2 separate regions of the Homo sapiens genome follow, and region 2 is linked to region 1. A link means that fine-mapping ties the variant in region 1 to the expression of a gene that starts in the linked region. Tissue or cell type: atrial appendage. Region 1 holds a variant in brackets; the other region holds the start of a gene. All regions are shown on one strand. Distances are from middle to middle.

The links. PIP is the estimated chance that this variant, and not a neighbour inherited with it, causes the effect.
Region 2: TLCD4 starts here. The variant in region 1 is fine-mapped to the expression of TLCD4 in atrial appendage (GTEx, PIP above 0.99).

What each region holds. Positions count from the first base shown.
Region 1 is chr1:95,157,144-95,159,829 of GRCh38, forward strand. The region is part of intron 5 of TLCD4 (TLC domain containing 4); the gene reads left to right. The region is part of intron 5 of TLCD4-RWDD3 (TLCD4-RWDD3 readthrough); the gene reads left to right. Among named protein-coding and RNA genes, the nearest start is that of TLCD4-RWDD3, 41 kb to the left of the region's middle. The variant C/T (reference allele first, on the strand shown) is at 1,634.
Region 2 is chr1:95,116,107-95,118,792 of GRCh38, forward strand. It overlaps TLCD4 (TLC domain containing 4), which reads left to right and starts at 1,249. Exons shown (of 7, transcript NM_152487.3): 1 at 1,249-1,511. It overlaps TLCD4-RWDD3 (TLCD4-RWDD3 readthrough), which reads left to right and starts at 1,817. Exons shown (of 8, transcript NM_001199691.1): 1 at 1,817-1,985. RefSeq lists a cis regulatory region at 1 and silencers at 1,256-1,402, 1,330-1,609, 1,690-1,739.

The sequences.
Region 1 (2,686 bases):
GGATTAGGAAACATTGACAAGCAAAAAGAAAAAATGATGCCCCAATCTCACAACCTATATAATTATATTATTTACTTACTTAACATTTACATTTAGGAATGTACTTTTTTCCTATATACATACGGGTTTATGCATATGTCAAAAACAGCATTTCTCATATAAATATATAATATGTATATTACAAAAATGTGATCAAAACTAAAATTTAAATTTTCATTTTACATATTGAAGTGGTTCTGGCAATCTTGGGTCAGAAAGCAAGGAACCTATCAAAGACTAATGGGACTGTGTCAGAAGGACACAAGATCCAATATGAAGGCTCTTCTGTTGGCTTAAAATGTGACATTTTGATCATCAATTAGAATAATGACTATGGTTGATTGAAATCCATTGACTCGTAAGTTCTTAATTATATTTTTAAAAAATGAAAGGAGAAAGCAAGCCAGTTGGGCAGTCTTGCTTGACGTCTCATGTGGGTGCTGTTAAATGGCAGTTGAGGCTGGAATTATCTAAAGGCTCATTGGTAGGAGTTCAGTGGGAGAGTATCTATATGTGGTCCTTCCGTGTAGCTTGGGCTTCTCACAGCCTCATAATTGTGTTCTGAACAACATTTCAAGAGTAATTGTTCCAAGAGACCCAGGAGGAAGCCGCAAGACTTCTTAGGACCTGGCTTCAGAAGACTTACTACATAGGTAATTCCAGTATATTCTATTTATCAAGTGAGTTGCTAAGGGCAGTTCAGATTTAAGAGGTAGGAAATAAGACCACCTCTTGATACGAGGAACATTTTGCACATACAGGGAGGGAAGGAATTGATGTGGCCCTGTTCAGACACTATCCGTATCTTGATTTGTCAATGTTGGGTAATAATGTTAGATAGTATTTTCTTGCTGTGGTGGACAAGAATTTAATGTTCATACCTCTATTTGCCTTCCCTTCTTCCTCCCAATGTAGTTAGGGAATGCTAGTTGTCACTCAGTTCCTTTTAAAACTTTAAGTATTCTTATTTCTGGTCCTATAGCACCCCTTGATACTTAATTTTTTCTTTTTTTTTTTTTTTTTGAGACAGAGTCTCATTCTGTTGCCCAGGCTGGAGTGCAGTGGCACTGTCAGGGCTCACTGCAGCCTTGACCTCCCAGGGCCAAGCGATCTGCCTGCCTCAGCCTCCTGAGTAGCTGAGACATTCGCCACTTTACCTGGCTAATTTTTAAAAATTTTCTATAGAGATGGGGTCAGCCTATGTTGCCCAGGCTGGTCTCAAACTGCTGGGCTCAAGTGATCCTCCTGCCTCAGCCTCCCAAAGTGCTAGGATTACAGGCATGATTCACCATCCCTGGCCTCTTGATACTTCATTTATTTATTTATTTATTTATTTTTTATTATACTTTAAGTTCTAGGGTACATGTGCACAACATGCAGGTTTGTTACATATGTATACATGTGTCATGTTGGTGTGCTGCACCCATTAACTCGTCATTTACATTAGGTATATCTCCTAATGCTGTCCGTCCCCCCTCCCCCCACCCCATGACAGGCCCCGGTGTGTGCTGTTCCCCATCCTGTGTCCAAGTGTTCTTATCGGTCACTTCTCACCTATGAGTGAGAACATGCAGTGTTTGGTTTTCTGTCCTTG[C/T]GATAGTTTGCTCAGAATGATGGTTTCCAGCTTCATCCATGTCCCTACAGAGGACATGAACTCATTCTTTTTTATGGTGCATAGTATTCCATGGTGTATATGTGCCACATTTTCTTAATCCAGTCTATCATTGACGGACATTTGGGTTGGTTCCAAGTCTTTGCTATTGTGAATAGTGCCACAGTAAACATACGTGTGCGTGTGTCTTTATAGCAGCATGAATTATAATCCTTTGGGTTTTGACCCAGTAATGGGATGGCTGGGTCAAATGGTATTTCTACTTCTAGATCCTTGAGGAATTGCCACACTGTCTTCCACAATGGTTGAACTAGTTTACACTCCCACCAATGGTGTAAAAGTGTACCTATTTCTCCACATCCTCTCCAGCACCTGTTGTTTCCTGACTTTTTAATGATCGCCATTCTAACTGGTGTGAGATGGTATCTCATTGTAGTTTTGATTTGCATTTCTCTGATGGCCAGTGATGATGAGCATTTTTTCACGTGTCTGTTGGCTGCATAGATGTCTTCTTTTGAGAAGTATCTGTTCATATCCTTTGGCCACTTTTTGATTGGGTTGTTTGATTTTTTCTTGTAAATTTGTTTAAGTTCTTTGTAGATTCTGGATATTAGCCCTTTGTCAGATGGGTAGATTGCAAAAATTTTCTCTCATTCTGTAGGTTGCATGTTCACTGATGGAGTTTCTTTTGCTGTGCAGAAGCTCTTTAGTTTAATTAGATCGCATTTGTCACTTTTGGCTTTTGTTGCCATTGCTTTTGGTGTTTTAGTCATGAAGTCTTTGCCCATGCCTATGTCCTGAATGGTATTGCCTAGGTTTTCTTCTAGAGTTTTTATGGTTTTAGGTCTAACATTTAAGTCTTTAATCCATCTTGAATTAATTTTTGTTTAAGGTGTAAGGAAGGGATGCAGTTTCAGCTTTCTACATGTGGCTAGCCAGTTTTCCCAGCACCATTTATTAAATAGGGAATCCTTTCCCCATTTCTTGTTTTTGTCAGGTTTCTCAAAGATCAGATGGTTGTAGATGTGTGGTATT
Region 2 (2,686 bases), 41 kb before region 1:
GATCTTTCTCTCTGCTTGACTGCAGGGCAGGTTTCTGTCCCTCCCTGTTCTGTGGTATAGATTTTGTCTTTTCCACATCAGTCCAGGTCTTCAGAGTCACTATGAATTATTATTACCATTTTAAAGATGAAGAAATTGAGCCTCAGTGAGGTTCAGTTAGCTAAAGGCACACAACTCTAATAAACTGACAGAATTCCAGGTTCTGATTTAAATTCTATTGCCCTCTCTTGAAAATAAACATGGACAGCTTATATGAGCTTTTGTGTATATATTTTCTGGTCTAAATCTGCGGCAGATATGTGTGTCTTTCTGCGCATGTATATAGTAGATCAAATATGTTAGCTCTATTGACATTTCTTAGAAATAAATATCCTGTTATCAATGATAGTGTTTACAAATTATTTATTTAGAACTTACCTCTTTTCAAGAAAAGGCCTTGTGATTGCTCTCTGCGAATTATAATGCATGAGTATACCTCTTTGTTATTTTGTTTTGTTTCAGACAATTATCTCTGGTTGATGCAGATCACTTGGAGGCTTTTGGGGCTGTATATAACAGGTCAGAACATCTATTTAATGTCAAACTTTATCTACTAGGCAACTTGGAATTCTCAGCCAGCACCAAATATTCAAATCCAACTTCCACACCCCGACAACAGAGGGGTTCCGGGTGTAGGTGTAGTGCTGGTGCACCCATGAGGGTGTTTTTCAGGAATTCTGGAGGTGGTGCTGGAGAGAACACGCTTCTTCTACACGCGCCCCCTACCAGTTTGGTATGCACCTGCAGCCCCAAAGAAGAACTGGCGGGACTCGAGTGTGGCCGTGTCAGACGTGGCAAGAAAAACCAGCAGTTGCCTTTTCATCTCTTTTCTGATGATCTAACCATGAAGTCCCCAGTATTTGAGCATTTAAGGCAGAATGTAAATTCATAATTTAAGAAGATTTTTTGTTACGTGGCTAGCCCAGGTACTGACCGCTGCGGGGGCGGGCTCACACAGTTCCCCCGCTGGCAAGTTTTGTGACTTGCTTTGGAAAACCCGGGAATTGCACCCTCTGCCCTTGGCAAGGTGTGAGCTTCCAGGATCTCTCCGCTGCGACTTCGGGTGTTAGGGTTTTTGGGCTCTTTCCGGGACCCAAGTTCCAGGGCAAGAAGGTCTGCTCGGCGGCCCGCCTCGGGGCCCCGCCCACTTTGGCCAGGGTCGGAGCCGCCCGGAGCGGGAGCCGGAGCCCGAGCGGCCGCGGCCCCTTTAAGGAGCAGCTCTGCGGTAACCCGAGCCCGCAGTCCGGGCGGGCGCGACGGCCGCCGCGGTAGCTGGAGCCTCCGCGACTGCACCTCCAAGCGGCCCGGAACCCGCGGCTTCCCTGGCTCCCGTGAGCATCTCACCGGGCGGCACTGGCCAGCGCCAGCCCTCGGGCCGGCCCGGATGAGCAGACTCCTGTAGACACCCGCCGCCCTCTCCCGGCTCGGCGCAGCCGCCGCCCGCGCGCGACTCGCCCCGGGACCCGGCACAGGTGACGCCGTTTGGAGGGGGGGTTGGGGAGGAAGGCGGGCTTGCCTCGCCCCGCGGCTCCCCCGCGCCAGCCGCCAAGCGCAGCCCGCGGAGAGGGGTGCCGCGGCTTCCCGCCCCTGGCCTAGCGCGGCCGAGAGCTCCTGCGCCTGGAGGCTGGGTGGGCGTCCGGCGCGCGGGAGGCGGCCCGGGGCTCCCGGGCGGGCTCCGGCAGGTGTGTGCGGAAGGCTCAGCATCGTCCCCGCCCGGCGGGCCACGGCGTCGCTCCGGGAGCAAATGGTGTCCCGGGGCCCGCGGCCCCCGCGCCGCCCGGGCGCCCCGCATTCCTCTCGCGTTTCTCGGGCTGCACGATTCCGGCTGCCCTGTCTGCCTGGCGGTGCCTCTCGGGTCTGAGCTTAAAGCGGGTGGGTGCAAACCTTTGGGCATCCAGGGAGAGCTTTCTTGTTAGAGCCCACACACAATCGGGCGCATCAAGTGGGTAAGTCCCCCTCCCCCGCCGCCACCTTCTGAAACAAGTAGCTCTTATTTACCCTTGCAGTTCTCAAGTGGGTCCCATTTTTAGCCACTGAGTGCTGAAAAGTCTAGTGGGAAGGGACCAGGCGTAGAGTCGGAGGGAGAAATTGGTTTCTATTTCCATCTTTACCTCTGTAACCCCTAAGTGCCTCGGTTTACCCAGCCATGAAATGGGATTCGTAATGCCAGCAGTTTCCTACCCCTCCAAGACGGCAGAAAAACCTCTGTGAAAACACTTTGAGTCTAAATTCATTTAAGAGTCGCTGTTGCTGGTCTGTATATTTTTAATTGTACACACATTTGAGTGTTAATGTGGTGCACACTTTTATATGAAATTATGAAATTTACTTTAAAGACTGATCTTGGATAATGTTTAATCCAAATACCAGTTTGGAGAAGATGGAAGAGTTTGTGTGGACCCTAGGAATTGATGTGTGAAATAGGAAAAAAGATTTAATAAAATCTTTACGCAGTCATAAATGGAGTTGAGAAAAATTGACCTTGGATTGTGGTGTTTTAAGTGAGTTACTCCCGTGCCAGCGCATGGTGTCGATTGAAATGTAGCTTCATCTTTGTGTAGCCGATTAAGGTAATAAGTTAGAGAATCCCAGCTCCCTTTTAATTGTGCTATATATGAGGAATTTTTATCCTTGCTTATCTTTTCCT